Homo sapiens: one gene and its partners. The protein of the gene in region 2 purifies or fractionates together with the protein of the main gene of each other region. This does not show direct contact. Each region holds a gene or a part of one and is shown on either strand. Other genes may lie near its edges.

Region 1 (8,022 bases), on a different chromosome or scaffold from region 2:
CTCAAGGGAAAAATTAAAAAGTTCCTGTTGGCTATTTTTCTTTTGCTGCTGTGTTTTTCTAGGGTAGCTGTTCTTACCTGGTTTTCTGCTGTCCCACGTGACTCTCACATGCACTCGTTGGGACAGTGGTTTATGCCCTTGTTCTGTGCACTGTCCAGTACCCTCATTCTGGGATTCTTAACCTGGACTCCAGAGGGATTTTTGCACTCTCTGGAATGATATGCAAGATGATGTGTCCATTGTACATGCAGAAAGGAGCCCCAGAATCTAAGAAAGAGGGAGAACTGTGGGAACTTAGATGTCAACTCCTCTCTTTTCTGTCAGCAGATTATAGCAGAGTGACAGCATGTAAGTGGCATTATACTTATACGTTTCTCTCGTATGTTCTAATTTCTAAAGGAGAGAAAAATAGATGAGGCATTCCCAGACTTAGAAACGTTGACCATCGTCATTCGCAGCACATGAGTGGCACCCCACCTAACACAGCAGTACCTGGCAAGACGCCACAGTTTAGGACCTGGAGCATCTCTAGATGTGGACAGAATTGTTAGTGCTTCCCTTACTGTGTGCCGGGTACCCTAGGCTGCAGGCTGGGTCAGGCTTTCTCCTGGCTTCTCATGAACACTTACGCACCAGGGTTCTCTCACCTCTGCTTCTGTTGCCTGTTGTCACAGAGTAAACTCATCTCTCACAATTCATAATAGAATAAAGAGCAGGATGAAGATTCTGTTACAACCTCCCAGTTTACTTTTTTCCAATTGACCCAGATTTTTGGCCTGGTCCTTGTCAAGGCATCTCATAGGGTTTGGAAGGGCCGGGCCGTGGGATTTACTGGAGGCTTCCCTCTGGGGAGCAGGCAGTGAATGGATGGATGGGCCACAGCAACCCTCAGTGCCTGGAGTCTCCCCTCCTCAACTTCTAGCACAAGTGGTTTCTCATCCTTGTGCCTGTTTGCCATTTGTGAGAACTTGGGGTCCAGTTTGGATGATTGTAAATTATGCCTGAGATAATTAGAAGAGAGACCTGTGGTTGAGGAAGAAAGGGGTGTAGAAAAGGAGTGGAGCTGAGGGATGGCAGAGTGGGACAGAAGTTTGTGTCATTAAGCCTTCAGAGACAGAAGGGAAGTCAAGGAAAAGTAAATCCCAGCTCTGCAGTGCCTCTGGCATCTGCCAGGAGGGAGAAGAGGTGTAAAGGTGTGTATAGGAGACAGTGGCCTAAGCTCGAGAGCTGCCCTCTGTGCTGTAAAGAAAGCAGCTGCCCCACTTTCTGTAATCAGAAAATCCAAGCATTTTGATGTGAGACCAGATAGGAGGGAAAAATATGATCCAACATATATAGATAGAACATCTGCAATCTAGTGAAAAGAATTTTAGAGGCTTCAAGTTGAAGCTGTGAAGAAAGGAGACCAACCCTGGTGTGTTCCTAGAAAGCAAGAAATGGTCAGTGAAAATGGACCGTATCCTTCCCATAGTGACTAACTGTGGCATATCCTCTGTGTATTTCATCTACTGTCTTCACTAATCAGTGCTAATGAATGGCACCATTAAACACCAGATGGGGATTGGTGACGAACAGCAGGTGAAGAGCAGCATCTTTTTGGTCAGTCTTTGGTGTTATGCAAGGTTCTCCTTTTTACAGAGGATGGATAGACTCATAAAGACTGAAGAGTCCTCAGGCAACTTCTGTCCCAGCCTTCTTCCCTCAGGTTGGGAAATATCTACCCCAGAGTTCCCACACATTTTTCCCCAAGTGAGAAGATAATTGATGTCCAGAGATACCGCTGGGGAGGAAAAAGAGAGGGCAGCAGAGAGAAGGATGGGCTTGGCACTTCACACGGACCTCGCTTTGGGTCCATCAGGGATTGGCAGGAGATTGGCCACTGGCTCCTGCTTGTTAGGTTGGGAATAGCCAGTCTCTGCCATTTGGGACCTCTGACTTCCTGTTCTCTTTTGAGGACCTTTGCTAGTGGTTTGTAAGAGTCCTTCCCCTCATCTGCCTGAAACCTCTTCAGCTCTGGTTTCAGCCCCTTTGGTCCATGTTTCCCTCTTGATCTGGGGGCTGAATTTTTGCATCTAGCAGCTTTATGTGCTTCATTATTAAGCTTCAAACTGGAATGGTTAGTCCATAAATCACAGGGAAGTGGGGAGAGGAGGGAAGCCCTCACATCACCCAGCATCACTGAGGTCAGGTCTCCCCTGACCCTGGAAATGCTTCTCCCACCGTAGCTAAGCCCCCATCAGCTGGATGCAGAGAGGGTGACGGAAGGCAGGCTCACAAGGTGCAGCTGCTGCCATTTATCAAGGATTTAACCCTCCAATGAACAAGTATGGATGAAATTACATCCCCAAATAGACCCCTCATAATTTGCCAGCCTTCAGTCTCCCAGCATTTGGGGAAAAAAATCTCTGCTTATCTTTTCCAGGGCTTGCGCCTCATTTTCACAGATGGTTCTCGAATCGTCTTCCGACTGAGCGGCACTGGGAGTGCCGGGGCCACCATTCGGCTGTACATCGATAGCTATGAGAAGGACGTTGCCAAGATTAACCAGGACCCCCAGGTAACGCCCAGCCCTGTGCCCTGGTTAGTTCTTTCTGTTCAAGGGAATGATAGTTTCCCATTGAGCCTGTGTTTCAATGCCCATTTCTCAAATGACTCAACAAGGTACCAGCTGTGCTTACTTTCTTCCATGTTTCTTTCTCCATGTCAACATTATAGATAATAATTATAATAATAAAAATAGGGAGGCTGAGGTGGGAGGATCACCTGAGCCCAGGAGGTCAAGCCTGCAGTGAGCCAAGATCACACCACTGCACTTCAGCCTGAGCAAGAGTGAGACCTTATATCAAAAATTAATTAATTAATTAATTAAAAATAAAAAATTTTCTGAGCATTTATGGTTTGCCAGGCTGTGTTGTAAGCCCATTATGAAAATATACTCATTTAATTCTCAAATAACTTAGACTGTTATTCTCCCTGCTACAGATAAGGAAACTGAGGCACAGAAAAGTTAAGCAACAGTTAATAGGTTTACATGCCTAGTAAGGATAATGAATCTCTCTTTTTTTTTTTTTTTTTTTGAGACAGGGTCTCACTCTGTTGCCCAGGCTGGAGTGCAATGGCACAATCTCAGCTCACTGCAACATCCACCTTCTGGGCTCAAGCAATCCTCCTACCTCAGCTACCTGAGTAGCTCGGATTACAGGCACGTGCCACCATGCTCTGCTCATTTCCTTTTTTTTTTTTTTCTTTTTGTAGGGAGGAGGTCTTAGTACATTGCCTAGGCTGGTCTTGAATTCCTAGCCTCAAGTAATCCTCCTACCTCAGCCTCCCAAAGTGCTGGGATTATATGTGTGAGCCACTGCACCCAACCCAGGATAATTGGTCTTTAAATCAGCCCCTCATCTGGTGTTCTGCTCTGTCTGCAGCATTTTGTTGCTTTGTTTGGTCTGATCACCTGCTTGGGCAGAACACACCACTGGGTCTTAGATTTGGTGGGGGCAGGGAGAGGCAGTTTCATGTGTCTTCACAGAACAGTCTGCAGACCTGCAGCTTGGTAAGCTGGGTTCCTCAGCCATTCCCCCAAAAGTCTTCAGAAGTATATCAGAGTAAGGAGGGACTCTGGGAGCAAAGGGTGGGACAGTGAACTTGAAGGACAACCCCCAAAAATGGAGGAGCCAAGGGGAAGCAGTGAAGGACAGGACAGTTTCTTTAAGTGTTTTTCACAATCCTTATCTCAACCAGAGCTCCATAGCTTAAAAAAAAGTTGGGGAAGTGTTGTGGTATATTAGCCCCTTCTTGGTGATTCACAGCATACAATGCAATGCACCATAAAGGCTCCAAGATTTCGGACATGGTGGCCTGCACCTGTGGTCCCAGCTACTCAGGAAGCTGAGGCAGGAAGATCACTTGAGCGTAGGAGTTCTGGGCTATAGTGTGCTATGCCTGTCGGGTGTCTGCACTAAGTTTGGCATCAATATGGTACCTCCCGAGAGGGGAACCACCAGGTTGCATAAGGAGGGGTGAACCGGCCCAAGTTGGAAACAGAGCAGGTCAAAACTCCCATGCCGATGAGTAGTGGGATTGCACCTGTGAATACCCACTGCGCTTCAGCCTGGTGACATAGCAAGACCCCATCTCTAAAAAAAGAAAAGGAAAGAAAAAAAGAGGGTGCTGAGAAGACTTGCAGTAAAGGTGCCTGTTTACATAGCATTTGCTGAAGGACATTTCTCCAAAGAAAACATACAAATGGCCAACAGGCGTATGAAAAGGTGGTCCACATCACTAATCATCAGGGAAATGAAAATCAAAACCACAATGAGCTGTCACCTCACACCTGTTAGGATGGCTGTTCTCAAAAAGACAAAAGATAACAAGTGTTGGGAAGGATGTGGAGAAAAGGGAACCATCAGACACTATTGGTGGGAATATAAATTGGTATAGCTATTTTGGAATAACCAAAATATGGAGGTTCCTCAAAAAGTTAAAAATATTTTAGTACTAATATACGATCCAGTAATCCCTCTTCTGGGTATATATTCAGAGGAACTGAAATAAATATGTCAAAGAGATATCTGTTCTCTCTTGTTCATTCAATATTATTCACAATAGTCAAGATATGGAACCAGCCTAAGTGCCCATCTACAGATGAATGAAGACATTGTGGTGTGTGTGTGTGTGTGTGTGTGTGTGTGTGTGTGTATACCACAATGGAAAATTATTCTGCCTTAAAACAACAAAAACCAAAATCTTGCCAATCTTGCCATTTGCAATAACATGGATGAACCTGGAGGACATTATGCTAAGTGAAATAAGCCAGACACAGAAAGGCAAATACTGCATGATTTCACTTGTATGTGGGATCTAAAAAAAGTGAATCTCATAGAAACAGAGCAGAAAGGGGCTTACTAGGGGGTAGTGAATGGGGAAAATGGAGAGATATTGGTCCAAAGGGTACAAAATTTCAGTTATGTAGGATGTAGCAGTTCTAGAGATGGAATGTACAACATGATGGCTATAATGAATAACACTTGAAATGTACTAGGAGAATAGATCTTAATTGTTCTCACTATCACCACCACAACAAAAAAGGTAAGTAGGTGACAAGATTGATAATGTTAGTTGGCTTGACTCTAGTAATCAGTTCACTATGTATTTGTATATCAAGACATCATATTATATACCTTAAACATAAACAATTTTTATTAAAAAATTGAAAGTAAAATAAAATAAATAGCATTTGCCATGCTTATTTTTCCACAAAGGCTTTTTTCTTTTAACACCTAATTAAAATCCTGTGAAACTCATTTGGAAACCCCTGGCATAGTGGTTTTGAGCAAAGTTAAAGAGATCTTGTTTTAAATTCTATTCCTGCCACTTAATAACTGTGTGTCCCTGGGTAAGTTGTTACAATTTTATGAATCTTGGTTTCCTTGTCTGTCAAATGGCAGAGTAATACCTACTTCATCTAGTTGTTACCGGGGTTTAAGGAGATAATAAATGTAAAATGTTTAAACACTGTGGCTGGCATATAGGATTAACTTTTCAGAATAAGCAGCACTCTTAGTTTTTTTAGTCTAACTTTAAGTGTAACATAATGCTATTATAACCATTTTTAAGTATATAGTTTAGTAATGTTGTACATATTCATATTGTTGTCCAACGTATCTCTAAAACTTTTTTCCCCCAAAACTAAAACTCTGTACCCATTGAACAGCACCTCCCTGCTTCTCCCTTTTCACAATCCCTGGTACCACCTTTCTCCTTCCTGTGTCTGTGAATTTGACCATTGTAGGTACCTCACATGAGTAGTATAGTTGCTTTTATTACAGAAAGTGGGAGATGAGAGAATGCTTCACTTTTACATTTTTTCCAGTGGCCAGGCCCCAGTTTCAGTCATCACCAGTACCTTGTTGTGTTGTAGGCATCCCTAAAACTTCAACCAAAGGCAATGGGGTCTGCATTATAGACACTTAATAGCACAAGAGAAAAGGAAGAAGGAAATTGTGTTTGTCTTTTGATCATCAAGATAAATGCCTGGCACGTGGTAGATTCAAAGAGTGAATGAAATTTGTTTCCTCTGAACCATAGTCCTCAGCAGGTGGAATGGCAGTGGATGGTGTGAGGTTCCCACAATGCCCAGGTGTATCACCATCTAGCCGGGGAGCTGCCTTTCCTTATTCTGCAGCTGCTAGGCCATCAGCACTTTGTGGGGACTGCCCAAGCCCTAAGGGGAAATGTGGTAGTTTCAGCAGGTGGAGTTGATTCTCCTTTTCCAGGTATAATGGATCGGTGGAGATTTAGATAAGAAAAAGTAGCATTCAGCAGTAGAAAATGTACTACTCCTGGCTCTGCTATTGAGTCATTTAGTCAAATCACTTCATCTCTTTGGGTATCAGTTTTCTCATCTGTAAAATGGGCAGTTCAACCAGATTAGTAGTTTTTTTTTTTTTTTAATATTGAAAGCATTTATTAAGCAACAGAATTCTCTCTTTTTTTTTTTTTTCTTTAAGCGAGAAGTAGATGTGGGGAGGGGTTGTTGCATTTTTAAAGATTCCTGTATTAGGCCGGGTGCGGTGGCTCACGCCTGTAATCCCAACACTTTGGGAGGCCAAGGCAGGCAGATCACCTGAGGTCGGGAGTTCAAGACCAGCCTGACCAACATGGAGAAACCCCATCTCTACTAAAAATACAAAATTAGCCGGGCGTGGTGGCGCATGCCTGTAATCCCAGTCACTAGAGAGGCTGAGGCAGGAGAATTGCTTGAACCTGGGAGCCAGAGATTGTGGTGAGCCAAGATCGCAGCATTGCACTCCAGCCTGGGCAACAAGAGTGAAACTCCATCTCAAAAAAAAAAAAAAAAGATTCCTGTATTAGTCTGTTTTCACACTGCTGATAAAGACATACCTGAGACTGGGCAATTTACAAAAGAAAGAGGTTTAATTGGACTTACACTTCACGTGGCTGGGGAAGCCTCACAATCATGGTGGAAGGCAAGAAAGAGCAAGTCATGTCTTACATGAATGGCAGCAGGCAAAAGAGAGAAATTGTGCAGGGAAACTCCTGTTTTTAAAACCATTAGATCTCATGAGACCCATTCACTATCATGAGAACAGCACAGAAAAGACCCACCCCCATGATTCAATCATCTCCCACCGGGTCCCTCCCACAACACTTGGGAATTATGGGAGCTACAAGATGAGATTTGAGTGGGGACACAGAGCCAAACCACATCAGTCCCATTGGGAACAGTGTGGGAAAGAAATTGGAAGATGCACAAGTGGATGTGGAGGCACTCACTGCTCCAGGTAAGAGACAGGACATTGACTTAGCAAGACTTAACAGCAGGAGAGTGGAGAGAAAAGGGGGCCATGGAGAGAGATTTAGCGGGGAAAAGTCATTGAGGCCTGCTCATGGACTGGGCATGGGGAAAATGCAGAGGAAGATGTCAGGAGCAACTCCTAGTTGTTCACTTTACATGAAAGACTGTAGTGTTGATCCACTGAAATAGAAACTGCTGGAACTAGGTATTGGGGGAAATAACATGTGTTTGTTTTTGGATTTGTGGAGTTTGAGGAGCCTTGGAGACCTGGAAGTAGGCAGTCAGACGTACGGGTTTGGAGCTAAGCATCTGTGTTTAGAGGAAGTGATGGAAAAGCTTCTCTCTATGTCTTCCTCAGGTCATGTTGGCCCCCCTTATTTCCATTGCTCTGAAAGTGTCCCAGCTGCAGGAGAGGACGGGACGCACTGCACCCACTGTCATCACCTAAGAAGACAGGCCTGATGTGGTACGTCCCTCCACCCCCGGACCCATCCAAGTCATCTGATTGAAGAGCATGACAGAAACAAAATGTATTCACCAAGCATTTTAGGATTTGACTTTTTCACTAACCAGTTGACGAGCAGTGCATTTACAAGGCACTGCCAAACAAGATGCCCTTGGGAGCTGTGAGGGAAAGAGGACCTGCGGGCTTAGATCAATCTCAATTCCTTTTCATGCCCTCCTGCATTGCTGCTGCGTGGGTA
Region 2 (8,022 bases):
TAAAGGTGAGGTCTAGAGACCCATGTCTGCAGATTGAGGGTTCGGAGGCTCAGGTCAGACACTGCTTGGCATTGCTGGGCTGTCACAAAACTGGGATCTGAGGACCTGTTCTCGGCCAAGGTGAGCAGCCTGGACTCTGTCAGCCAGAGGGCTGGCTGTGTGCTGAAGTTTAGTTTCTAGAGCTGAGTCTGGGCTGGGTGTGGTGGCTCATGGCTGTAATCCCTGAGCTTCGGGAGGCTGAGATGGGAGGCTGAGGCCAGGTGTTCAAAACCTGCCTGGACAACAGAGCAAGACCCCATCTCTACAAAAAATTTAAAAAATAGTCAAGCATGGTGGTGTGTGCCTGTAGTCCCAGCTACTGGGGAGGCTGAGATGGGAGGATCACTTGAGCCCAGGAGTTTGAGGCTGCGGTGAGCTGTGATCATGCCACTGCACTCCACCTGGGCAACAGAGCAAGACCCTGTCTCTTAAAAAAAAAAGAAAAAAATAGAACTGCATCTGTTAGATGAGATGTGAGAGCCTATGTCAAGCATGATGTAGTCTGTAGGACTGCGTCTGTCAGGTAAGGTTCCCGGAAACCCAGAGCCTTTCCAAGTGAGTGGCCCCACCGGTCATCTCATTGCCCAAGCCAGAAACCTCTCGGCCACACTGGAGAGCTCCCAGAATGAGTCCTCTGCACTCCCCAGTCCATCTCCGGGGCTTCAAAGTGGCTTGTTTGCTTCTGTCCTTGTCTTAGCCGCAGACTGTTCTCAGTCCTCCCACCGTGCCTCTCAGCTTCCACCCTGCGGTCCCCACCCCTTCCTTTATCCTCTGGAAGGTGCTATGCTTCCCCCTGCCTCAGTGGGCTTCCAGGAGAGAATTAAGCCCTCACAGCCCAAGGCATCTACTGGATGTAATAAGTGGGCACCTCTCCTTCGTGTCTAGAAGGTTACTAGTCTTGGACCATCCTTGGGAGAACTGAGAAGTCACTCAGATCATTTTCTGTGGGCCTTAATTCTGTCACGCTTGAGAAAGACTGCTTTGGCCACGGGACCTTTGCATGTGCTGTTATGGCTGCTGGAATGCTCCCTCAGTGCTTCTCTGGGTCATGCCTGCTCGTTCTTGAGATCAAGGGTCAAGTACCCCTCAGGTTCCTTTTATAAGTGGCCTCAGCACCATGTTCCAATTTCTCCTCAGCACTTGTTTCTCAGTTTCACATTTATTGGCATGATTATTTGATGTACGTCTCTCTCCCACACTCTGTGTCCGTTGCCTGTGCTAGAAATGTGGGAGGTGCTCCATAAACAGCTGTTAGGAAGACATCCGTGAAGTTCTGAGGACTCTGATGGCACCAAGTGGAGCTTGCAGGTGTGGCTTGAGAAGGTGCAGTGTGAATGATAGGCCTAGGTGATAGGCCGAGAAGATCGGTCAAGCCCAGATATGACCCACTGGGCCTGTCAGTGTCCAGGAGGTGGGGTGAGGCACAGGTCTAAGGTTCTGGATCTGTCAGTACCACCTGAGGAGTTGGGAATGGGCACAGGTACAAAGTGATGAGTCTTCATTGTTCAACAAAGAATGGCACAGGTGTGAGGATCTGGGTTTGTCAGTATCTGAGGATGTGGGGCCTGGCACAAGTATGAGGCACTGGGCCACTGTTCAAGCAGGTGGGCTGGGGAACAGAAATGTAGCTGTGGGTTTTTAATATCTGAGGAGACCTAGCCAAGTGTAGCAGAGAGCTGCTGGGTCTTTCATTGTCCAAGGAAGCATACCTGGGCACAAGTATGAGACTGAGAAGGTGGGTCCTGGCACCGGTAAGGGGCTCTGGGTCTGCAAGTGTCTATGGAAGTAGGGCCTGGTACAGGTATGTGGTGCTGGAAGAGGTATCCAAGGAGGTGGGCTAAGTACAGGTATGACATCTGGGTCTTCCAGTGTGTGAGGAGGTAGGATCTGGTACAAGTATGAGGCCCTGGGTCTGCTGGTGTCTGAGGAGATAACAGCAGGTTACAGGTATGAGGCCCTGGGTCTGCTGGTGTCTGAGGAGGTAACATCTAGTACAGGTATGAAATCTGGGTCTTCCTGTGTCTGAGAAGGTAGCACCTGGCACAGGTATGAGGATCTGGGTCTTCCCAATGTTTGAGGAGGTAGCATCTGGCACAGGTATGAGGATATGGGTCTTCCATGTCTGAGGAGGTAGCACCTGGCACAGGTATGAGAATCTGGGTCTTCCAGTGTCTGAGGAGGTAGCACCTGGCACAGGTATGAGTATCTGGGTCTTCCCGTGTCTGAGGAGGTAGCACCTGGCACAGGTATGAGGATCTGGGTCTTCCTGTGTCTGAGGAGGTAGCACCTGGCACAGGTATGAGGATCTGGGTCTTCCCGTGTCTGAGTAGGTAGCACCTGGCACAGGTATGAGGATATGGGTCTTCCATGTCTGAGGAGGTAGCACCTGGCACAGATATGAGGATCTGCGTCTTCCAGTGTTTGAGGAGGTGAGTTTGGACTCAGGTTTGAGGCCCTTGGGCTTCCAGTGCCTGAGGAGATAGCATCTGGCACAGGTATGAAGCCCTGAGTCTTCTAGTGTCTGGGGAAGTGAGGCTGGGTACAAGTATGAGGATCTGTGTCCATCAGTATCTGAGGAGGTGGGATCGGGTCCTGGTATGAGGATCTGGGTCTGTCCATGTCTAAGGAGGTAAGATCTGGCCCTGGTATGAGGATCTAGGACTGTCCATGTCTGAGGAGTTACCATCTGGTACAGGAATGAGGATCTGGGTCTGTCAATATCAGAGGAGGTAGGAATCTGGTACAGGTATGAGGATCTGCGTCTGTCAAAGTCTGAGGAGTTACCATCTGGTACAGGAATGAGGAGATGTGTCTTCCAGTGACTTAGGAGGTACGATCTCTTATAGGTATGAGGATCTGGGTCTGTCAATGTCTGAGGAGGTAGGATCTGGCCCTGGTATGAGAATCCGGGTCTGTCCATGTCTGAGCAGGTAGGATGTGTCCCTGGTATGAGGATCCGGGTCTGTCAATTTCTGAAGAGGTGGGAATTTGGTACATGTATGAGGATCTGGGTCTGTCAGTATCTGAGGAGGTAGGATCTGGTACAGTTGTGAGGATCTGGGTCTTCGGGTGTCTGAGGAGGTGGCATTTGGCACAGGTATGAGAATCTGGATCTTCTAGTGTCTGAGGAGGTGGGATCTGGTATTAATTATGAGAATCTGGTTCTGTCAGTGACTGAGGAGGTAGGATCTGGCATAAGCATGAGGATCTGGGTCTGTCAATGTCTGAGGAGGCAGTATCTGGTACAGGTATGAGGATCTGGGTCTGTCATGTCTGGAGGTAAGATCTGGCATGAGTATGAGGATTTGGTTCTGTTCATGTCTGAGGAGGTAGGATCTGGTGCAGGTATAAGGATCTGGGTCTTTCAATGTCTGAGAAGGTAGGATCTGGTACAGGTGTGAGGATCTGGGTCTGTTAATGTCTGAGGAGGTAGGATCTGGCACTGGTAAGAGGATCTGCATCTGTCAGTTTCTGAGGAGGTAGGATCTGGCCCTAGTAAGAAGATCTCAGTCTGTCAATTTCTGAGGAGGTTGGATCTGGCCCCCTTATGAGGATCTGAGTCTGTCAATATCTGAAGAGGTAGGAATCTGGTACAGGTATGAGGATCTGTGTGTGTGTCAGTGTCTGAGGAATTAGGAATCTGGTACAGGTGTGAGGATCTTCATGTCTCTGTATCTGAGGAAGTAGGATCTGATACAGGTATTAGGATCTGGGTCTATGTCTGAGGAGGTAGCATCTGATACAGGTATGAAGACCTGAGTCTGTCAGTGTCTGAAGTGGTTGGATCTGGCCCTGGTATGAGGATCTGGGTTTGTCAGTATTTGAGGAGGTAGGATCTGTCCCTGGTAGGAGGGTCTGTGTCTTCTAGTGTCTGAAGAAGTAGGATCTGGCCCTGGTATGAGGATCTGGGTCTGTCAGTATCTGAGGAGGTAGGATCTCATACAGGTATGAGGATCTGGGTTTTTCAATGTCTGAGGAGGTAGGATCTGGCACAGGCATGAGCATCTGGGTCTGACCATGTCTAAAGAGTTGAAGCTGTGTGCAGGTATGAGGCCTTGGGTCTGCCAGTGTCTGGGGAGGTGAGGCTGGGCATGGGTGTGAGACCCTGGGTCTGTCCATATCTGAGGAGGTAGGATCTGGTATGAGTATGAGGATCTGGGTGTGTCCGTGTCTGAGGAGGTGGGCCCTGGCACAGGTATGAGGCCTGGGGTCTGTCCGTGTCTGAGGAGGTGGGCCCTGGCGCAGGTATGAGGCCCTGGGTGTGTCCGTGTCTGAGGAGGTGGGCCCTGGCACAGGTATGAGGTCCTGGGTCTGCTGGTGTCTGCAGAGACAGGGCCCGACATCTCAGGGAAGACCACGGTAAGCTCTTCAGTTTGTCTTGTGGCTGTGGTCAGTCATCTGTAGTCTGCCCTGTTGGTCTTCCCATGTGTTGCCAGCACCTGCCTGCTGCCTTGCTTCCTGGAGGTGGGTTGGGCCAGGGCCCTCCGAGACGCCCCTGTGCAAGACCAGGGACAGGGTTTCCGGCAGGAGGTGGGGGGCGGGGTGTGCCGGCCCTCCCTCAGCACCTTGTCCTGTCTCTCCTAGTGGGTGGGAGGACGCTACTCGCTGTGGTCGGCCATCGGACTCTCCATTGCCCTGCACGTGGGTGAGTGTGTTTCTGTGTCTTGCAGCCCCTGTGGGAGACAGTGTTGCAGTCTAAGGTCGGGGTAGGGGGCTTGTGTCCCTGAACATCATGCTGTCCTCACAGGCTGCTGGCCTCTCTGCAGCTGGCTGGGATATTTATTTCATGTCCAGAAGGAAGGTCTGGGTTTTTTTGCGTGTGCAAGTTGGCCCCCGTCTTTGCCCCTCACAACTGCAGTCCTGTTTCTCTCCTATCCTAGGCAGAGTCAGATCCCTGCACTCAGGGCCACCTCTCACTGGAGGGGCTTTGTCTAGGTCCGAGTCCTCCCATGTCGTATCTTCTGGCTCTCCATGCAGCCTTCCTTCGTTGCAGAAGGAGCTGTGCCCACTGCCCACAGGACGCAGGGTGTGGCCACTTCTGTTGACTCTGCTTTTGTGTCACAGGTTTTGACAACTTCGAGCAGCTGCTCTCGGGGGCTCACTGGATGGTGAGTGCTGAGGCTGGTTCTCTGCCAAGTGCTGGCCAGAGGCGCGTGTGTTGGTCCTGGTCCCCCGCTTTCTCCCCCACTGTCCTGTCCCTCCCCTCCCCGTGCAGCTGCTCAGCTCCCACTCATCCTGCTCCTGTTTCAGGACCAGCACTTCCGCACGACGCCCCTGGAGAAGAACGCCCCCGTCTTGCTGGCCCTGCTGGGTATCTGGTACATCAACTGCTTTGGGTGTGAGACACACGCCATGCTGCCCTATGACCAGTACCTGCACCGCTTTGCTGCGTACTTCCAGCAGGTACCAGCTGCCAAGCCAGGCCTTGGAGTCAGCAAGATTTGTGGGGGGTCTGGGAGGTCTAGGAACCTGGGTTTCAGCTCCTCCAGGAGCTCTTTGCCCCATTGCCCTTGGGCCTGGCCAAGGTCCATCTGTGCTCCTTGTCTCAGGATGAATCTTTGTAACTGAGGTTGGTTCCATTTGAGTGTCATCTGAGTTTGATCACCATGGGAGGGGCATGACTGGTGATCATGGTGCCCTGGCTAGGGAGGTCCTGGCTTGACTCAGGGGATGTTTCTCAGCTGGGGTCACTTCTTTCTTGCACATCACTATGCATGCCTACCATAGTGTCTGAGGACGTAGGATCTAGCCCTGGTATGAGGCCCTAGGTCTGTTAGTATCTGGGGAGGAAGGATCTGGTACAGGTATGAGGACCTGGGTCTGTCCATGTCTGAGGAGGTGGGATTTGGCCATAGGGTGGGGCTGCAAGCTGGAATCCCTTATAGCCTGCACTGCCTTTATCCCTCCAGAAAAGCAAGTGTGTATCTAGTCTGTGGTGGCCTCTTTGGACTACATGGCCCTCTTCTCCCTTGGGATCTCCAGAGCCCCCCGAGAGGCTTAGCAGGCCCTCTCCTAGTCACATTATGTCCCAGAAAGCTTTTCCACACCTGTCCCTGCTTTTTTTTTTTTGAACAGATTCTCACTCTGTTTCCCAGGCAGGAGTGCAGTGGCGCGATCTCGGCTCATTGCAACCTCCGCTTCCTGAGTTCAAGCAATTCCTGTGCCTCAGCCTCCCGAGTAGCTGGGATTGCAGGCATGCACCACCTTGCCTGGCTAATTTTTGTATTTTTAGTGGAAACGGGGTTTCACTATGTTGCCCAGGCTGGTTTCGAACTCCTGGCCTCAAGCGATCCACCTGCCTTGGCCTCCCAAAGTGCTGGGATTACAGGCATGAGCCACCATGCCCAACCCTATCCTTGCTTTTGTTTAGTACAAAGCCAGTCCCTGTCCAGCAGCTCTTGAGTTGCTCTGGGCAGGTACAGAAGGCTTCACCAACACCTGGAAGCAAATCCTGTGACTGAAGGAGAGGCCAAGGTTCCCCAAATCCCAGCTGCCTTGGTGAGGGTTGCCATGACCAGGGCCCAGGTGGGTACCCAAAGCCTAGCATTTAGTTGTGGTGACAGCCCTCAAAGGCTGTACTCTTAGCCAGGCATGGTGGCTGATGCCTGCAATCCCAGCACCTTGGGAGGCAGAGGCTGGGGGGAATTGCTTGAGCCCAGGAGTTCAAGACCAGCCTGGGCAACGTAGTGAGGCCCGGTCTCTACAAAAAAAACCCACAAAAACTAACAGTAGCCAGGCATGGTGGTGCGGCACCTATAGTCCCAGCTACTTGGGAGGCTGAGGCAAGAGGCTTGCTTGAGCCCAAGAGGTCGAGGCTTCAGTGAGCAATGATTCTACCACTGTACTCCAGCCTGAGTGACAGAGTGAGACTCTGTCTCTTTGGGAAAAAAAGAAGCTGTGCACTCTGGACCCCAGCCTGCTCTCCCTTAAGAAATGAGCTGATTTTGTGACCGATTTTGTCTTTAGGGAGGTCCTTGCCTGACCTCCAGACCCACCTTTTCCTGGGCATGAGTCCTTCCTGCACAGTGGCTTAAGCAGGAAAGGTTGGGAGGCTGTGTCCTCACTGGTGTGGGGAGGAAGGGGATCGTGCCTGTGGACACGTGTGCAGGTCCACCTCACGGTGTCAGGGCAGGGTGGGTCTGCCTGGAGCATCTGGGCAGGACTTTGGCATGGTGCAGGAAGGAGCAGGATTTGCGTACAGTGTGTGAAGGATCAAGACTTGCAGGAAGAGGGTTGGGTTTTTTTTCTTTCTTTTCCTTTCTTTTCCTTTTTTTTTTTTTTTCTTTTTTTTTGAGTTGGAGTTTTGCTCTTGTTGCCCAGTCTGGAGTGCAGTGGCATGATCTCGGCTCACCACAACCTCCGCCTCCCGGGTTCAAGCGATTCTCCTGCCTCAGCCTCCCAAGCAGCTGGGATTACAGGCATGCGCCATCACACCTGGCTAATTTTGTATTTTTAGTAGAGACAGGGTTTCTCCATGTTAATCAGGCTGGTCTCAAACTTCCAACCTCAGGTGATCCGCCTGCCTTGGCCTCCCAAAGTGCTGGAATTACAGGCTTGAGCCACTGCGCTCAGCCTCTTTCTTTCTTTTTAAATGTTCTTTCATTTTGCCAAGAACTGGGTTTCTGTTCCTTTTCCAGGGCGACATGGAGTCCAATGGGAAATACATCACCAAATCTGGAACCCGTGTGGACCACCAGACAGGCCCCATTGTGTGGGGGGAGCCAGGGACCAATGGCCAGCATGCTTTTTACCAGCTCATCCACCAAGGTAGGCCCCTGTGGCCTGGGAAGGGTGATGTTGGGGGAGGGAAAGGATCTTCCAGAAGAGATATCTCACTTAGGTCAGTGCCCTCCTCTAGGCCATATGGCTAGCTCCCATGGGCTGGGGTCATGTGGGTGACCACAGTGCCCTTCACAGGCACCAAGATGATACCCTGTGACTTCCTCATCCCGGTCCAGACCCAGCACCCCATACGGAAGGGTC
Region 3 (8,022 bases), on a different chromosome or scaffold from region 2:
GGCTCAACACCCAAGTGTGGCCCAGGCACCAGGCACCTCTGAGGCACTGGCCCCCTGAAGCTGCAGGACACTGCTTGGCAAGCCCTGAGCCAGGCGTCCTGTATCGGGGGGTCTGAGGTCTGGCCCCACCATCTACTAGTTGTTGTGGGACCATGGACAAGTCACTTCTCTCGGAGCTCAGTTTCCCTATCAAGAAATAGCTAACAATCGTGCTCACATCATTGGTTCACTGATGACTGGATGAGATCCTGTCCATGAGGCACAGAATAGTGCCTGCGGGAAGCAACATTTTTATTTATTGTTTTGCAGCAAGAGCCTTCACCTGAGGTTCTGCCGCTCATCAGTCAGATGGAGTTAGTGCCCCACCCGGGGATGTGGGGAAGAACACATGAGAGGTGTGACAGGCTCTGTGAACTCTCAGGACCCACCAGTGCTCCCAGAAATCTTACAGAAACCCCAGGGCCTCTGCCTCAGGACAAGCATCTGCCTAGCAGACTCTAAGGTCCAAAGGTCTCATCTCTTGGGGATGCAGAGGGAAGACCTGGCTGCGAAGAACTGGCCAATGCTGCCACGTACAAGGATTTAAGACTAGTGCATCCCTAAAGAGCCTCAAGCTTGTAAAAGTTGGATCCACGAAGGCTGGGCACACAGAATTCGGGGTGGTCTACACGGTGTAGACACTTGTGGTCCACACGGTGTAGACACTTGTGGTCCACATCCAGGGGGAGAGGTCAGGCAGACATGAGGACTGCAGAAGATGTCACGATGACGCTGGCCGTGACAGTGAGCTCCCCGGTCTGTGGGTGTGGCTGGACAGATGGGGGTGAGGGCTGGGAAGAAGGACTAATGCCTAGAACTACACCTGGAAATTCAGCCATCCATCCACACAACACACACATACATTAAGGACCTGCTCTGTACTGACCTGGTCCCAAACCCAGAGCTAGAGAGGAATAAATAAGCCACAGTCCCTGTCCCCACAGAGCACATGATCCAGTGCAGAAAGCACTTGGCAGATGCTGGAACATAATGTGAAGAGATCCCACAGAGGATCCACTGGAAGCCACTGTGCCAGGCACGGGGAGGGCCGGGGAGGCTCCACAGAGGAACCAGAAAGCTGTGATGTGGAGGAAGGTCTGCGGGCCAAGTGGGGCCAGGGCACTTCCCAGAGGGAAAGGGGTTCAGGTTTGGGTTGGACCTAATGGACTGAGGCTGCTGAAGACGTGACATCAAGGCGGGAAGAAAGTAAAGCTGCAAAGTACTCCCATGGCCCCTGGGCATTTTCTTTTTAAAGAAACAAACACACGAGCTGCTGTATGCTTAGCAGCTAGCCGGTGGCAGATGTGAGCTGCCATCACTCACGGCTCCAAACTTTGGCCCAGGAGCTGCCATAAAGGCCTGGGCATTTGTACTGAGGTAGAAAGGGAGACACCTGCATTGCAGTGCCCTTTGTAACAGAAGGCCAAGACTGGGTCCACCTGACTCCCTAACCCTGCTGCAGAGAGGGGCTTTCTAGTCCCCACAGGCCGCTGCAAACGGCCATTCCACGCAGCCCCTTCCTGGCAAGAGTGATGGTTGGGCAGGGCAGAGGAGTGATCCCCTGCTGGCTCTGGTTTCAGAGCGGGGCGGTGCTGGGAGCCCATGCGGCGTCAGATTACAGCCTGACTCAGCACATCCTGAGGAGGCCAGGACAGTGAGGTCTGGGATGGAGGTGGGGGGAAGGGCCACCTTGCAAAGGTGCGAAGAGGCAGGTTTCATACATACAGGGTGGATGTAAATGGACACAAACTAGGTCAGTGGTCCCTAACAGTGCCCTTGGAAGAAAGGGAAGCACCCACCTCCCCAGGATATACACGTTCACACTTGCACTTCCAGAGACAAAACTGTCCAACTGTCCACCAAAAGAAGATCCATCCTTGGGACACCTCAGAGGAGCCCCCGGCTGACATGGCCACATGACCTATGGTACCTTCACCCTACAGAACACCATGAAGGAGCCAAAAAGAAATCCGAGGAGCGCCACGTGCAGAAGCAGAAAGAGCTCTGGGGGCGAGGGAGGCGGCAGAGCAGCACGGTGGCATGGGGCACTCGCTCCAGACCAGCCCTCCTGCCCACAGGCCTGGCTCCACAGTAAGCCAGCTAGGTGTCCCTGGGCAAGAAGGTTAACATCTCTGTGCCTCAGCTGCCTCCTCTGTAGGGTGTGGATAGTAAAAGCACCTACCTCACAGGGCATGGCAAATATCTTTCAAGTGCTCAGCCTAGTACCTGAGACACAGTATGGGCTCATCAAATGTCAGTGATGCATGCCACAAGGGGTGACACTTGTGAAAAAAAACAAAATAATACCATGTTCTGTATGAGAGTTTATGGGAATAGAGATGCTTGAGTACACACCCAGAAGACAATGTGGAAAGAAACATGTCGCACTTAAAATGCTGGTTACCTGGGTGGTTAGGAGGTATTATTTTAACTTCTCACCCAGAAAATGAGCACGTATAATGACATAATGAAAATCAGTTTCAAAACAAAGGAGGAAGAGCATAAGAGCTGATGGATATGTCATCCAGTTCCCCTCAGCCCCCCTGGGCCTCAAACCCCCTCCCCCCATAGGCCTGGAACATACTTCTCTGGCTTGGGCCCTTGGGACGGCAGACTGAGCCCAGCTTTACCTGGTGAATGATTCCAGATCCAGGCTTCCAGAAGCCCACGCCATATTTGGCACCTGCAGTTGCCAGGAAATTATAAACTTCCTGGTTGATGTCCTATTGAGACAAATCAATAATTGGGCGTTAGCAACATGGTTTGTGTCCAGGTGACCCTCACCAAGCCCTCCCCACCCCATCAGCCTCCCTTCTGACTCTGAAATACTGGCACTGGAGACAGGCCCTCTCTTAGAGACCTTCTAAAAATAATTCCAAAGAGCTTGGATGTTGGCCCAGTCTCCACTAGCAGTGTCAGAGAGAAGGACAGGGGAGCAGAGATGGAGCCCCAGTTCTGTGACACCTGGCCAGGGTGGTGGGTCTGGAACAAGTCCCTGCCCTGGTCTGGGTCTCAGTTTCCTTATCTGGAGAAGGGACTGGTCTAAATAATTGCCAAGAGTGCCTGTGGCACTCAAGTCCCCAGATGAGGCCAGCAGTGCAGAGGCAGGCCCTGGCCTAGGCGCAGTGGCTGGGTGCAGTGGCTCACGCCTGTAATCCCAACACTTTGGGAGGCTGAGGCAGGCAGATCACTTGAGGTCAGGAGTTCAAGACCAGCCTGGCCAACATGGCGAAACCCTGTCTCTACTAAAAATACAAAAATTAGCCAGGCATGGTAGTGCACACCTGTAATTCCAGTTACTCGGGAGGCTGAGGCACAAGAATTGGTTGAACCTGGGAGACAAGGATGCAATGAGCCGAGATCGTGCCACTGCACTCCAGCCTACAAGACAGAGCGAGACTGTCTCAAAAAATAAAAATAAGAATAAAATAAATAAAAATTAGCTGTGCACCTGCGGTCCCAGCTACTTGCAGGCCGAGGCAGGAAGATCACTTGAGCCCAGGAGTTCAAGGCTGCAATGAGCCGAGATCGCACCACTACACTCCAGCCTGAGTGACAGGGCAAGACCCTGCCTCAAAACAAAACAAAAACCCCAGAGGCTTTTTTTGAAATAACTTGCTGGAGATCCCAGGCTTAGACGACACCTGAGAGAGCCCCCTGGACTGGTGTCTGACTGTCGGAAGTGCTGAATTCTTGGTAATGTGTTTGATGGGCCCAAATGGAAGGCTGTCGAAGGGACCACTGTTCTGAAAAGGAGGTTTCAGCCAAACGAAATGATGACACGGGCTGTAGCCATCCTGCCTATAATCTGAAGGAAGCTTCCTTGAGGGACAGGGAAGGGCCCACTGCACAGCAGATGTGAGGCCAGGGTTTATCTGGAAGACATGGGAGGTCCCTGTGTGGGGTCAGTGAGACTGACCCCAGTAACAAAACGGTGGGATTCTAGTGGACTCTACTGAGTCTCAAAGGAGGAACTAGGAAATGGGACCTGCCAGCCTCCGGCATGGGAGAGCGATGCTTCAGAGAAGGGACCTCAGCCAGTGCCCTCGGACCCTTGATGAGATACACTCAAACCACACACCCCTTCACTGAAACTCCAGACCAGTGTGTGCCCTCTGAAGGCCCACTGGGTTCCCCCAGGTAAGAGAATGGCAAAGAACGTGGGTTTCCAGAGCAGTCTCTTTCCAATTAATAATTAATACATCAGCTTTTTCATTTACAAATCGGTCACTTATGAAATTGGTATCCAGGACAGGAGGCTGTGGTCGTGTCTGGGCGCATGTGACTACACGTCTGTGTTAAGTGTGAGGAAGGGGTGTGGGAGGACCCCAGACTGGTGCCAGAGTCTCGGCCTGGACTCAGCCTGGATCCATCTCTGGTTCTGTGACCCTAGACAGGTCACTGCCTCTGAGCCCTAGCCAGAGGGACACTTTACAAATACACGTAATAATGACCACATTCTAGGCCGGGCGTGGTGGCTCACACCTATAATCCCAGCACTTTGGGAGGCCGAGGTGGGTGGATCACCTGAGGTCAGGAGTTTGAAACCAGCCTGGCCAACGTGGTGAAACCCTGTCTCTAGTAAAAATACAAAAATTAGCCAGGTATGGTGGTGGGTGCCTGTAATCCCAGCTACTCGGGAGGCTGAGGCATGAGAATCGCTTGAACCCAGGAGGCGGAGGTTGCAGTGAGCCGAGATTGCAGTGAGCCGAGATTGTGTGTCACTGCACTCCAGCCTGGGGGATAGAGCAAGACTCTGTCTCAAAAAAAAAAAAAAAAAAAAGACCATATTCTTTCTCCGCTTAAACTGTTCTAGGACTCTGAGGATGGTGACCATAGCGTTCCCACAGCCCTCGCGTTCCTGGCTGCCCCTGCCCACCTCATACCACCCGCTCTTCCAAACACAGAGAACTCCAGCAGTACAGGCCCCCTCTCACTTCCACAAAAGCATCAAGTTTCTTCCTGGCTCAGGGTCTTTGCAAATGCTGTTCTTTCTAGCATGTTCTTCCTCCAGTCAATGCAACTCATATGTTCAGTCCTCAGGTTATCTGTCACATCCTCAAAGAAGCTCTCTCTTTCCCCCAGCATCTAAATTAGACCTCTTTTTTATACTGACCAAGTCCCGCACTTTCCCTTCCTAACACATACCCAGATCTGCAGTTACCTACCTCGGCCATTGTTTAGTGTCCACACCCACAAGCAGATCCCTGAAGGCAGGGCCCCTGCCTGACTTGTTCACACTGAACCTCAGTACCTAGCCCAGTGCCTGGCACATAAAGAATGTTCAATTTGTTGAACGCATGAGGGAATGAGCTCTGAATGCTATGAGTGTGCATCTCATCTCCAGAAGATTCACTCTGAGCCCATAAAGCAAGCAGAAAGCCAGCCCCAGAAGGTAGCAGCCCTGTTGTGGGCAGCTGTCCCCAGGGCTGCAGAGGACCCACGTTCCCGGCCATGTGCAGTTCCCGGCACTGTGGGAGCTCCTGTAACATTATTACCCCCACCAGTGTTGTTGCTAATGTGGAAACCGCCGGCCGGCAGGCAGGACTGTCCTTTCAGCTGAGGGGAAAGAGCCACTGTGGAGCCAGGATACCACCAGGGGGCCAGGGTGGAAGAGAGGGTCTGAGTGAGAGCGCCGCCCCGAGTGTTTCCCATGGGGCTGGGAGGCTTTGAGCCATGCTGACCCTGGGAGCTGGAGCACTTTCAATCACATGCCCACAGGCCGCAGCCCTGCCAGCATTCAGCTCCTGCCAACGCCCCTCCCCGTGAGGGGGACCCACTCCCACTGCAGGGGCTGGAGAGTGGGGAGGCCCAGAGCTGGGAGAGAGAGGCCCGCTGTTGCCAAGAGCAGGCTGACACAAAGGTCCCACAAGCCGAGCCTGGGAGAAGGAGCAGGAACTCGATTTCATAGAAGGGTGGGGGAAAAGCCTTCAGCATGGCATACAGCCACCCCCATGTAGTTAAGCAAAACTCACAGAAGAATGGCCCCCAAAGGAGGCTCCTCAGTGACAGAGCACCAGAGTGGGAGCCAGGATCAGCATTGAGCCCTAATCGTGCCCTCATGTAGTTACAGAACTCAAGTATGATGCCACTGCCGCCTCAAATTTACAAATAGTGACCCTAGCACGCCTACCTCCCGGAGAGGGTCCTTGGAGGGTCAGAGGAGAGCGGGAGTGGGTGCAAATGGGATGCTGGCAAACTATGCTAAGATGCACCCCTCACTGCTCAGGCAGACAGGGAGGCCTGCATGGCCCCTTCCAGAGCACCTGGCAGGATCCACATCATCCTCCAACAGGACAGAAAAAGGACCTGCAGTGTGGTAAGGTCAAGGATGATTTTTTCTTTCTTTAGGCTTCCTCTGTATTTTTTAACATAATGAGCAAGTGCTATTTTTAGAAAGAGAAACAAGTAAAATCAAGTTTTAAAAGCAGACCAATCCAAAGAGGTGTGAGAATTTGGAGGCAATGCCCTGGTTTGCTCCAGTGTGAGGGTGAGGCCTCTCGCCCAGTCTTGCCCACTTGCCCACCCCCAAAGCCACCTTCTGCTCACCTTGGCCCGGCGCAGGTCTTTCTCGCCCCCAACCTGGGCTTCAATCAGATGGTCACAGTGGATGGTGGATGGCACAGCCACCTTGGACAGCCCGCTGCTGATGAACTGGAGCATGGCCATCTGGGCCGTCGCATCCTGCATGGCCACACGGTCCGGCCGCAGCCGCAGGTACGACTTGCCTCGCTCAATTTCCTGGCTGGCGGGGTCATCCAGGTGTCCATACACAATCTTCTCCGAGAGTGTCAGCGGCCGGTTCAGTCTGTGGGGAGAAGAGCAGAAGGGTGGCCTGGTGCTAGCTGCACGGCCTCCTCCCGCCCTGCCTCTCCCTCTCAGTCCATGTGGCAACCTCAACAGTGGCCAGGGACAGGGAGTCTGAACTCAGGACCTCAACGTTCCACTTGGGTGGGGACTGCTGGGTCCTGTTCACTGCACCACCTCCTCACCTCCTGCAGCACCTGGCACTTGTTAGGTGCTCCACAATTACTTGATGAGTAAGTGAATGACAACATCACAAGAGGGCAGCGCTGGTTCTTTTCAAAGGATCCTGGCTTTCCCAGCATCGTAATTCCTACTAAGTCCCCGCAACATGCATATCTCATCATTCCTGCCATTTAACAACAACAACAACCAAGAAAGCCATTTAACAACAACCAAGAAACAGGCTCAGGAGAGTGACCAAGTTCACAGCTAGATTTCGCTACTTCCCTCTGTGCCCTCAGCCCCACTAAGGCACAGGGAATCAGGACCAGCATCCCCTTCACCTGTCCACCCTGTCCGCCATCTACAACCCTCCACACCTCAGGCCTGGGATGCCTGGCTACCCAACTATGACACTAAGACTTTGCCCATTAGCTCCAGACATAGACAGGAGTATCTGTCAGTTTTCAAGAACAGAGACCGGGTCACTGCCACTGGCCTCTCACAGCTCCTCCTCCTCCTAGACCCCATTTCCCCGGAGGCCCCACCCCTCCCTTCCTCATCAGAGCCAAAATGGCAGTCCAAACCTGCCCTGGGGTCCGGCCCTGTCAGGACTCAACCGTCTTCTCCCCACAAGCCTCCCAGCCATCTAGACTGAGCTCTGCGCGGGTCCACTCTCCCTGCCAGGCTCAACGTTCCGGCTGACTCCCGGCTGCACCCACACAACAGAGCAAAGGGGCTGTTGTGGCCGCCCTGCCTGCCACAACAGCCCCTTTCAGACCTCACGCTCTGCCCCCCAGAATTCTCAAAGCTTAGGCCAAGCTTGAGACTTCCTTCCTAAGGAGGAGCAGAGTTCAACCCACACCTGACAGGCTCTGTCCTATTGTTTGAGGCCAAGAAAAAAGTTTCAGACTGGGAGTCAGAAGCTCTGAGTTTAACCCTGACCTGGGGGCCTGGTGTGGTGGCTCACGCCTGTAATCCTAGCATTTTGGGAGACCAAAGCAGGAGGATCGCTTG

What was found. The genes of interacting proteins can lie anywhere in the genome.
Region 1: the proteins of GPI (region 2) and PGM1 fractionate together in Homo sapiens (co-fractionation; 2 studies listed by BioGRID). This does not show direct contact.
Region 3: the proteins of GPI (region 2) and ACO2 purify together in Homo sapiens (affinity purification with mass spectrometry; 2 studies listed by BioGRID, with this or other methods). This does not show direct contact.

Annotation. Positions count from the first base shown.
Region 1 is NC_000001.11:63,651,910-63,659,931, forward strand, and holds part of PGM1 (phosphoglucomutase-1), read left to right. Parts: intron 1-2,422; coding exon 2,423-2,557; intron 2,558-7,676; coding exon 7,677-7,766; 3' UTR 7,767-8,022. UniProt on the Homo sapiens protein: Catalyzes the reversible isomerization of alpha-D-glucose 1-phosphate to alpha-D-glucose 6-phosphate. The mechanism proceeds via the intermediate compound alpha-D-glucose 1,6-bisphosphate.
Region 2 is NC_000019.10:34,388,625-34,396,646, forward strand, and holds part of GPI (glucose-6-phosphate isomerase), read left to right. Parts: intron 1-4,623; coding exon 4,624-4,684; intron 4,685-5,103; coding exon 5,104-5,147; intron 5,148-5,289; coding exon 5,290-5,442; intron 5,443-7,676; coding exon 7,677-7,806; intron 7,807-7,956; coding exon 7,957-8,022. UniProt on the Homo sapiens protein: In the cytoplasm, catalyzes the conversion of glucose-6-phosphate to fructose-6-phosphate, the second step in glycolysis, and the reverse reaction during gluconeogenesis.
Region 3 is NC_000022.11:41,506,616-41,514,637, reverse strand, and holds part of ACO2 (aconitate hydratase, mitochondrial precursor), read right to left. Parts: intron 6,848-8,022; coding exon 6,589-6,847; intron 2,763-6,588; coding exon 2,670-2,762; intron 1-2,669. UniProt on the Homo sapiens protein: Catalyzes the isomerization of citrate to isocitrate via cis-aconitate.